3 linked regions of the Homo sapiens genome follow. The protein of the gene in region 3 interacts with the protein of the main gene of each other region in a pairwise test. Each region holds a gene or a part of one and is shown on either strand. Other genes may lie near its edges.

Region 1 (3,748 bases), on a different chromosome or scaffold from region 3:
ATGGCTTATTTCATGGAGTAGCATTTTTACTTGAAAGAACGACTAGCAGACTATGGTTTTTCACACTTAGTATTTGGCAGATATTTCTTGAAAATGAAGTGAGCTTGTCACTTTTAGGAAAACAACTGACAGTATTTATTACCAGTGATAAAATTTGGGTGAAAATTAGAATTTTTAAAAAGTTGACAGCTGGAGTTTGACAGCTTCCTAGTACTTAAAAGACTTTCCTTATGATATCAGTGGTTAAGGACTGCAATATTTTAAAATGTTGTTTAATGAAATATGTTATTTGGAAGATGGGCATAACTCAGTAAATCTAGGCTTTGCAAATGACCAATGCATGATGTTGCAAAATCAAGCAAAGGCAAAAGATCCTTTGAAAATTCCAGACATAGCAATGGATTTTAACAGTAAAAAAGTGGATTGATGTGGTTTCAGATTCCAAAATGTTAACTGTCCTTTAAGAAACTACTATTTGGCCTAGCGTGGTGGCTCACTCCTGTAATCCCAGCACTTTGGGAGGCCAAGGTGGAAGGATTGTGTGAGCCCAGGAGTTGGAGTTGAGCCTGGTCAGCATAGTGAGACCCTGTCTCTATTTATTAAAAAAAAAAAAAAAAAAAAAAAAGAAAGAAACTACCGTTTGTTGAGTTTTAGTATTTACCAAACACAGTTATCTGAAAAGGTTATTAAAATACTTCTCCCTTTTCCGACTAGATTTTCATTATATACTTAACCAAAGCTACATATAGCAACAGACTGAATGCAGAAGTAACTGTGAGAATCCAACCATCTTTTATCAAGTTAGACATAAAAGAGATTTGCAAAATGCAAAACAACGTTACTTTTCTCACTTTTTGGAGGGAAAGTATTTTTTGTTGAAATGTTATTTATGTTAACTTATAATGGGCTTGTCTTAAAATACATTGATAAATACTACATTTTAAAAATTTGTGGTAAATGTGGAAAGATAAAATTCACATAAACAAAAGATCTTTGGCGTCTTCAATAATTTTAAGAGTCAAAAAAATGAGAATCATTCAGTCAGTCCTATGTTTCTGCTCTTTACATCATTCAAATCTAACTCCCTTGGGGAACTTGGGAGAATTTATAAATAGTTGAAGTTGATGGAAGAGGCAGTGACCTGGGGAAGAATTCTAAAGCAAAAAAAGCTTGCTTTGAATCCTAACTGGGATATTTACTAACTGTAACCTTGAGGAAGTTACTTCGTCTCTCTAAACCACTGTTTTGACCTTATCTGTAAAATAAAAACTTTAGAGCTGGTTGATTACAAATCCTAGAGCTGGTTAATGCCTTTGCCATAATATCAATATGGTAACATTTTGATAGATTCTTTGGTATTCTTGTTTGTGATATTAAGCCATATTCACAAAAACTTGTCTTTTTTTTTTTTTTGAGATGGAGTCTCGCTCTATTGCCCAGGCTGGAGCGTAATGGCGCAATCTCGGCTCACTGCACCCTCCGCCTCCTGGGTTCAAGCGATTCTCCTCCTTCAGCTTCCTCAGTAGCTGGGATTACAGGCACGCGCCACCACACCTGGGTAATTTTTGTATTTTTCTAGAGATGGGGTTTCACCATATTGATCAGGCTGGTCTCAAACTCCTGACCTCTTGATCGACCCGCCTTGGCCTCCCAAAGTGCTGGGATTACAGGCGTGAGCCACCACGCCCAACTGAAAAACGTATTTTTATATGTAACCAAGGGGAGGAGAGCAGAAAAGAGACACTAACCTATTGCTAGGTGTTAGCAGAGTTAAAAGAAATTGAAAGCATAGAAATGGAATTTAGGCAACACACAGCTGTCATTGAAGAAAAGTTTTCCATCATAGTATAGATATTTTTCTTGGGAAAGGGACTCCTGAATATTGAACCCCTTTAAAGAAGAGAACTTGTTGCTTACTTGTTTTAGTAAAGAGCACAGAACTAAATATTTGGGTGTTTCTTGATACAGGATTGGCTACCAGACAAGAGGAAAGTATTTTGAGTTTGGAAATTTTAGGTTATTAAGACTACTTAAAACCCTTATGATTCTTACATATGAGGTACTATAACAGATGTTGTGAGGGACAAAATGGGCTGTGCAAAAGACTGGATAAATAAAAGCTTATTACATGTTTAACTATAGTTTTATACACAGATTAAGTATTCAGCCCTATAGGTTTTCTGGTATTAGTCCTTTTTAGAGCCAAAAATTGAGGTAACTTGAAAACATAATTACCAGTTATGTTGAGGATTATCATTGTTTATTTTTCACCCTGGAACAAGAAAGTGGTATTCTTAAAATGTTTGTTTTCTGTAAAATATTTTTCCTGTTCCAAATGTTCTTTTTATGTTGATTTTTGGGCAGGTATGTACTGGCAGTAAGTTGAAAACGTTAGATACCAAATTCTTCATTTCTGAATTCTTCATTCTTCATTTCTGGACTTTACAGCTATGAAAGAACAAGACAAAGGAATTCAGAGCTTTCAAGAACCAAGTATGTCAGGATAGTTGTGGAAAACAGATCTTTTTCTCATTTTCTTTGAGATGAAGATAGGCAACATTTGCTGCCCATTAAATACCTTAAAAGTATACAGGTGTATCTGCAGGATTCTTTTTGCTGCTTTTAAATAGTATATTGTTTTAAAAGGTCTGTTTTTATCTTGCCTTTACAATTATATAGACTTTTATTGACTAGCTGATCATATAGGGCCTTAGTATAGACTACCATATTCGCCAGCATTTAAGAAATAGTCCCCTTCCCTCCAGGAGAGTATTTATCTGGTACTCCCATATTATGGATTGAAGGATGAGACAAGAGACTGAGTATTGCTAATAGTTCTGTGTGAGCCTGCAGTGTTAAGTAAAACCTATTGAGTGCACAAAAAAATCATGTTACAATTACTACAAAATAGAGAAACCACCTAGGTTACCAAGATGTCAAATAATGGATTAATGGAAGAAAGTAATGTACCTCCTTGGTAGCCTACATAATCCACCTTAATTTGTTATTTCTTATTTAACTATTTTGCTATGTCTTAAGAAATGTATATTAAGTGAAAATGGATGCATAAAAATAAAAAAAGAGAAATGTATATATACAAGCTACATGAAAATTGGTCCTGGGAATAAATCAAGAAATTCAACCAACAAGGCTACCAGTTATTTAGTAAATACCAAAGAGATAGGTGGAATGTAGCAGTACAGAATATCACAGCTAAGATATGAGTAGGTAGTTCCACTCCCTCCTACCCCACCTCAGTTTTTATTAAGAAAATTTCACGCATGCGAAAAGGGAGAAAGAGGCTGGGCGCAGTGGCTCACACCTGTAACCGAAGCACTTTGGGAGGCCAAGATGGGCGGATCACAAGGTCAGGAGTTCAAGACCAGCCTGACCAACATGGTGAAACCTGTCTCTACTAAAAATACAAAAATTAGCTGGGCGTTGTGGCGCATGCATGTAATCCCAGCTACTCAGGAGGCTGAGGCAGGAAAATCACTTGAACCTGGGAGGTGGAGGTTGCAGTGAGCCAAGATCACTCCAGCCTGGGCAACTGAGCGAGACTCCATCACAAAAAGAAGAAAAAAGAAAAGGGTGAAAGAATTCTACAAGGAACACTTAAACTATCCACCACCTAGACAGAGTGACTTTTTTTTTTTAAGACAGAGTCTCGCTCTGTTGCCTAGACTAGAGTGCAGTGGCACAATCTTGGCTCACTGCAACCTCTGCCTCCCGAATTCAAGCGATTATC
Region 2 (3,748 bases), on a different chromosome or scaffold from region 3:
GGACCACCCGCCCAGCTCGGCCGGATCTGCAGCCCCTTCCCGCTCGCCAGTGGAGTGGAGGCGAGGCCCACGCCTACCGGTCCTCGCACGCGGTCTCGCTTTTCTCAGCCTGCCGGCCTGGTGTGTCTCGGGCCGTAGGTGGCGACGTGGGCGAAGGATCAGCGTCCGCGCGGGCCGGGGGCGCAGCCATGGCGCTCGGAGGCCTCTTTGCGGGCCTGGCCGGGCGGCGCGCATGGGCCGCCGGGAGCTGGCGGGTCCCTCTCTTGCCCACCGCGGACTACAAGCCCCACAAGGCCGCGCGTCGCGGACTACAAGCCCCACAAGGCCGCGCGTCGCGGACTACAAGCCCCACAAGGCCGCGCGTCGCGGACTACAAGCCCCACAAGGCCGCGCGTCGCGGACTACAAGCCCCACAAGGCCGCGCGGCGGGCATGGGGGACCCGTAGTTCGGCAGCCTCCGCCACGTGCCTGGAGGGCCCCGCCCCCTGTTTTTCACCACAAACTGAGCCGCACAAAAACCCTGGAAAAAAATCAATAAACATTTATTTGATACAGTCATTTTAATACATACAGTGATGGCCCGTCCCCACGCCACTCGGGACCAGGGCGCGGGGCGGGGACGAGGACCGGGGACAGATGGTCACAAGGCGGGCGGGGCCCGAACTCACCGTTGAAACATCTCGCAAATAAACACTTTGTAGATAGAATATATATGTATATATATATGGTTACAAGTGATAGCTGGAACCTCTTTCAAAATGCACTTATGTACTGAGAACTGGCATTAAAAAACCCAAACCAAGAAACCCAAAGCACGGGACGCCCGGCCGCGAGGCAGGGGAAAGCCTGGGGCCCCAGACCCGGGCCTGGGGGAGCCGCCTGGGGCCCCGCCAAACGCGGCACACGGGGACGGCCCCTCCCGGGGTCAGGCTCACTGGCTCCTTCCCTTCAGCGCCACCAGGCAGGAGGGCCAACGGTCACACAGGAGGCACCCTCACCTGCCTTTGCACCAGCAAATAAAGTGCATCCCATTTTCGTGTGAGCGTCGGCCCGGTGAGTCAGCCCTTCCGGGCCCTTTCCTGTTCTCAGGGCAGGGGGCGTGCGCTGAGCCAGAGGTAGATCTGCAGAAAGGGCCCCGACTGGGCCTCGGGCAGGGCCGGCGCCCACCACACTCTGGGGGTCAGCTATGCTGGTCCCTCTCACTGAGGGCTCCTGGAGGCCTATGTGGGCCAGCGTAGGGAGTGGGCAGACCCTGCTGAGCTCCACCCAGGGCCCCACCCCTTGGGAGGAGGGCTCTGCGGACCAGCATGTGGCAGAGGGAGGGCAGAAAGGAGGGGGTCAGACCCAACAGCCACTTCTGGCAGTAGCCCCCACGCCTACCTTAAAGACAAAGGGGGTTAAAGTGCTAAACATCAAGGTATCCAGGACTCCTCTTCCCACACCAGGGATTATCTGTGGGCTTTGGGAGTGTCCCGGAAACTCACCCCCAGCAAAAACCAGACCCTCTTCTCTTCTCCCCAAGGGCCAAGTACCTGAGAGGCTGGGGCAGGCACCACACCCTGCAGGTGTTCAGGTCCACCCTCCTCCCGCCATTGGTGGCAAGGACAAAGTGCACCTAGGCCCCCGCCCAGTGCCTGCTCCCCTCCCCTCCCCTCCCCTCCCCTCATGAGGCTGCCCCAGCAGCAGCTGCCAGACCCCACCCTCCACCTCCGGCTCCTCCAGCTCCACCAGTGAAGCTCTGGGACACAGGAAGGAATGCCTCCCCCGACCCTCTGACGCTGGGTCACGCCCATCTCTGCCCCAGCCTCCATCCTCTCATCAGGCCGAGGTGTGCGTGGGTGGGGGGAGTCCGGGTCTCCACACCCACTCCCTGGCACATCTGGCAAGGGCTGCTGAGGGTTGGAGCCTTCTGGCCCAAGGATGAAGCCAGAGACAGGAAGTGTTCTGCAACCCCAGTCCCCAAAGTGCTCCTGGAACTTGTCTCCCTACTACTGCAGGCCAAGCCCAGTGGGGCCCCTTCTCCCTGGGGAATGGGGGAGGGTGGGTGCTGGGGGCAGAGGCAGTGCCCAGTCAGTACTGCCTCCCTGAGCAGCAAGGGACCCCAACCCCAGAGACCCACGCCCTGGTCCAGCCCAGCCCCCAGGCCCACCGTCTGCACCAGGAAACCCTTAGCACCAAATGTCGGATTGCGAGTGTTTGTATAAAAAACAATTTAAAAAAAAGGTTGTTACTTGTCACAGCAACAAGACTGGCATCCACTACACCCAGGAGACACACGCACACGGGCAAACATCAAAATTCTCATCGTCCAGGGTCAGTGGGGCCGAGCCCTCAGCCCACTCCCACCCACCCTGGAAAATGGCCTCCCTCCAAACCTACCCCCTCTGAGCCTCATCCTCCCTGCAATGCCGTGGTTGGAAGGCAGGACCCCAGGGAGGGAGCCACAGGCTGTGGCCACCTCTTCCAGGCACCCTGGACTCCCTGCCTGACCCCTGCCCTACCTATAGACCCAGCCGTCCTCAGGGCCACAAAGGGGCAAAGACAGCTCTGGAGCTGCCATCAACCTGCTGTGACTTTGGCCAAGCCCCTCCCCTGGCTGGCCTTCAGTTCCCATATCAAATGACCACACAACCAGAAACAATGGGGGCAGGTTAAAAAAAAAAGTGGGGAGGGGGCTCCCATGAGAGCTTGGCCACTGGGCCTACCCAGATTGGCAGACAGAAGGCTGCCTTTCCCCCAGTGGCCACTCAGAGCCAGGCCAGCTCTGCCCAGCTTCCTGCCCCACATGCCTATGGGCCCCAGCAAGACCCCAGGGCCCGAACTAGTCCGTCCCTACTCCACGAGGCTGCTCCAACCTAGGCCTGCAGTGCCAGAAGGCTGAACACTGGAGGAGAGCACACTCCAGGGGCCCCACACCCCCAGGGCTGGCAGCTGTGTTGAAGGGCATCAAGCTTCTGCTGCCCTGTAGGTACAAGAAGCAAAACCCCTCCCTTGCCCCAAGCTGGGAGAATTACAGACAGGCCTGGGGGGCAGGGCCTGAGCACAGCAGGGATCGCACTGACAAAGGAGGAGCAGGGGTGGGGGTAGTGGGCAGGCCTGGAGAGGTAGAAAACAGAAGCAAGGGGACCAAGTGGGTGGCCAAGGGCAGGCCGGAGCCTGTCAGGTCAGCATGGCAGTGGTCAGACAGGGGTCTGTCCTGGGAGGTAGCTGGGGGTGCTGGAGTTCCAGTGTTGGGTGGAGGTGAGGCCAGGATGGTGGCTGCCCGTGCCAGGTTGCTCAGGTGCCCTCACCAGCCCAGAACCACAGGTCACCAGGGATGCCTGAGCCTTGGGGTAGCCAGGGAAGGGACCCGGCAGGGCCTGAGGAAGCGGAGCCGGGGGGCCAAAGGCCATCTGCCTACTCTGCGCTGCAGCCCCTGTGGCACCAAGACCCCAGACACATTCCCATGAGGAGGGGCAACCCTCCTGGCTATTGCACTTCTGCTGGGCACACCTTGGGGAGCCCCAACCCAGGTGTGCCCTGTGGCAGCCTTAACAGGGGAAGGGCCACCTTCAGGGAAGGGAGAGTGGCTGGCTGCCCCACTGGACGGATGAAGAGGCGGGGGTGGGGGATGGAGAACTGGAGGACAGAGGTCCCGGAGCTGGCCCTGCCTTGAACAGAGGGCGGTGTGGCGGCTGCATGGGGGCCAGGCCCCACGCACCATGCTCACTTTTCAGGCGCCTTGCTGACTCCCACCTTCCGGCCGGTG
Region 3 (3,748 bases):
CTTGGCTCACTGCAAGCTCCGCCTCCCGGGTTCACGCCATTCTCCTGCCTCAGCCTCCCGAGTAGCTGGGACTACAGGCGCCCGCCATCACGCCCAGCTAATTTTTTGTATTTTTTAGTAGACACGGGGTTTCACCGTGTTAGCCAGGATGGTCTCGATCTCCTGACCTCGTGATCCGCCCGCCTCAGCCTCCCAAAGTGCTGGGATTACAGGCGTGAGCCACCGCGCCCGGCCTCAAATCCTTAAGACCCCTCAACACAAATATTTCCGGTTTCCAACAACATTCCAACAAGACTGGCAAAGCAGCATCTAGAAGGCTGAGAAACTAAGGAGAGCTTTCAGTGCAACTCACCAAAGAGAGACGGAATTTGAAGTTTCAATCTTACCAAGTTAGGAGGTAAGATTACGTCCCAGGACTAAATATTCACCCTAAGACCTTATAGCAACACTGAAACAGACCTGCCTTAACAAAGTACAAAACCCAGCCACAACACGTAATTTAACTAGCTAATAGAAAAAAAAAATCAATATTCTCCAGAGAAAGATAACAAAATTCAGAATCTCTATAATGTGTCATCCACAAGGTCCAGAATGCAATTTAAAAATTACAATTGCTTAGCCAGGCATGATGGCTCACGCTTGTAATCCTAGCACTTTGGGAGGCCGAGGTGGGTGGATCACCTGAGGTCAGGAGTTCGAGATCAGCCTGGCCAACATGGTGAAACCCCACCTCTACTAAAAAAAAAAATACAAAAAATTAGCTGGGCATGGTGGCGGGTGCCTGTAGTCCCAGCTACTCGGGAGGCTGAGGGAGGAGAACCAGGTCAAAGACAAATTAATATACATTCTCCATCTGAAGAACCTTGAGAAAGATTGTTAAAAACCCCAAATAGGCCAGGTGTGGTGGCTCACACCTGTAATCCCAACACTCTGGGAGGCCAAGGCGGGTGGATCACCTGAGGTCAGCAGTTCGAGACCAGCCTGACCAACATGGTGAGACCCCGTCTCTACTAAAATTACAAAAATTAGCCAGGTGTGGTGGCCGGTGCTTGTAATCCCAGCTACTTGGGAGGCTGAGGCAGGAGAATCGCTTGAACCCGGGAGGCGGAGGTTGCAGTGAGCCGAGAGCGTGCCATTGCACTCCGGCCTGGGCAACAAAAGCGAAAACTGTCTCAAAAAAACAAAAAACAAAAAAGCCAAATAGATTCCCAGCAACTTGTAAGACAACACCTAGTTAATATACATGTAACTAGAGTTCCAGAAGGGCAGTAGACAATTTAAATTTTTTTTTTTTTCCCCAGAAGCAGTGGCTTGTACCTGCAGTCCTAGCTTCTTGGGAGGCTGAGGCTGAGGGATCCCTGAAGCCCAGGAGTTTGAGGCCAGCCTGGGTCCCAGCTACTCGGGAACACTTGCCTCAGCCTCCCAAAGTGCTGAGATTACAGGTGTGAGCCACTGCGCCCAGTCCTTATTTCCTTCCATTTACTTTTTTTGTTTAATTTTTCTTAAGGTAGAAACTAAGATCATTCAATTTAAACCTTTTTTTTCCAATACAAGCATTTAAAAGAAATTTTCCTCTAAGAATTGCTTTACCTTCCACTGACTTTTTTTTTTTTTTTTTTTGAGACAGGGTCTCCCTCTGTCGCCCAGGCTGTAGTGTAGCTGTGCTACCTCAGTTCACTGCAACCTCTGCCTCCTGGGCTCAAATGATCCTCCCACCTCAGCCTCCTGAGTAGCTGGGACTACTGGCATGCGCCACCACACCTGGCTAATTTTGTATTTTTAGTAGAGATGGGGTTTCACCATGTTGCCCTGGGTTGGTCTTGAACTCCTGACCTCAGGTGATCCACCTGCCTCAGCCTCCCAAAGTGCTGGGATTACAGGCATGAGCCACCGCACCCGGCCCCCAGATCCTATGTATATTAAAGAGATAATAAGGAAATAGTATGAACATCTTTATATCAATAAATATGAAAACTTAGATGAAACAGACAAACTTACAAAAACAAAACTTAGCAAAATGGATACAAAAAAACATAGATAACTTGAATAGTATAGATCCACTTAAAAACTTGAATCCATAGTAAAAAACAACAACAACAACAACAAAAAAAAAACAAAAAAAAACCTCCGCAAAAAGAAAACTCTGGGCATAGATGGTGGTGTCCTAATTAACTCTATCAAGCTTTTATGGAGAAATAATACCAATCTTACACAACTATCAGAAAATAGTACAGAAGAGAACACTTCCCAACTTGTTTTATGAGGCAAGCCTAACCCTGATATTGAAACAGGAGATGAAACTTTTTCTTATAATTTCATAATAAATTATAGATCAATATGGTTCATAAACATTGACACCAAAATCCTTAACAAGATATTAGCAAATTGTCACAGAGGATTTTAAGGGCAGTAAAAATACTCTAATAGAGTATGATCCTCTATTGATAGATGTATGTCATCATACGTTTGTCCAAACCCATAGAATGTACAACACTAACAGTGAATCCTGATGTAAATGATGGACTCTGGGTGATTGTGATGTGTACGTGTAGGTTTCAACAGTAACAAACGTGTTCCTCTGGTGGGGGTGTTCATTATGCAGGAGGCTATGTATGTGTGGGGGCAGGGAGTGTAAGGGAAGTCTCTGTACCTACCTCTCAATTTTGTGGTGACCTATAACAGCTCTAAAAAATCATCTTTAAAAAATATTAGCTAATTGAATCCAGCAAAATACAAAAATACATCATAACCAAGTGATATATTAGCTTTTTTATATGTAAATTAAAACCACAATGATAGACCACTTAACATCCAGTAGAATGGCTAAAACTTTAAAACAACTCCAAATGTTGGTGATAATATGAAACAAACAGAATTCTTTTTTATTTTTTATTTTTTTGAGACGGAGTCTCGCTGTCACTCAGGCTGGAGTGCAATGGTGCAATCTCAGCTCACTGCAACCTCCACCTACCGGGTTCAAGCAATTCTCCTGCCTCAGCCTCCTGAGTAGCTGGGACTAAAGGTGCACACCACACCATGCTAATTTTTTGTATTTTTAGTAGAGCCAGGGTTTCACCATGCTGGCCAGGCTGGTCTCGAACTCCTGACCTTGTGATCCACCTGCCTCAGCCTCCCAAATTCCTGGGATTACAGGCATGAGCCACTGTGCCTGGCCTCTTTTTTATTTTTTTTAGAAGACAGGGTTTTGCTCTGTCATCCAGGCTGTAGTACAATGAACATGGCTCACCAAAGCCTCAACCTCCTGGGCTAAGTGATCCTCCCACTTCAGCTTCAAGAGTAGCTGGGACTACAGGCATATGCTGCCATGCTTTGCTAATTAAAAAAAAAAAAAAAAAAAAAAATTGGACAGGCACAGTGGCTCAGCACTTTGGGAAGCCGAGGCGGGTGGATCACCTGAGGTCAGGAGTTGGAGACCAGCCTGACCAACATGGTGAAACCCCCTCTCTACTAAAAATACAAAAATTAGCTGGGCATGCTGGTGGGTGCCTGTAATCCTGCTACTAAGGAGGCCGAGGCAGGAGAATCACTTGAACCCGGAAGGCGGAAGTTGCAGTGAGCCGAGATTGGGCCACTGCACTGCAGTCTGGGCGACAGAGGGAGATTCCGTCTCAAAAAAAAAAAAAAAAAAAAAAAAAAAAATTGGTGGAAACAGTGTCTTGCTACATTGCCCAGGTTGGTTTTAAAATCCTGGGCTCAAGCAATCCTCCGACCTTGGCCTCCCAAAGTG

The links.
Region 1: the proteins of ZNF143 (region 3) and POGZ interact in binary tests that used the Homo sapiens proteins (3 or more experiments, as listed by UniProt).
Region 2: the proteins of ZNF143 (region 3) and ZNF512B interact in binary tests that used the Homo sapiens proteins (3 or more experiments, as listed by UniProt).

Annotation. Positions count from the first base shown.
Region 1 is NC_000001.11:151,452,772-151,456,519, reverse strand, and holds part of POGZ (pogo transposable element with ZNF domain), read left to right. Parts: intron 1-1,617; exon of another isoform or gene 1,618-2,493; intron 2,494-3,748. UniProt on the Homo sapiens protein: Plays a role in mitotic cell cycle progression and is involved in kinetochore assembly and mitotic sister chromatid cohesion.
Region 2 is NC_000020.11:63,956,183-63,959,930, forward strand, and holds the end of ZNF512B (zinc finger protein 512B), read right to left. Parts: coding exon 3,706-3,748; 3' UTR 522-3,705; downstream 1-521. Other genes in the region: UCKL1 (uridine-cytidine kinase-like 1), read right to left, coding at 78-190. UniProt on the Homo sapiens protein: Involved in transcriptional regulation by repressing gene expression. Associates with the nucleosome remodeling and histone deacetylase (NuRD) complex, which promotes transcriptional repression by histone deacetylation and nucleosome remodeling.
Region 3 is NC_000011.10:9,519,938-9,523,685, reverse strand, and holds part of ZNF143 (zinc finger protein 143), read right to left. Parts: intron 1-3,748. UniProt on the Homo sapiens protein: Transcriptional activator. Activates the gene for selenocysteine tRNA (tRNAsec). Binds to the SPH motif of small nuclear RNA (snRNA) gene promoters. Participates in efficient U6 RNA polymerase III transcription via its interaction with CHD8.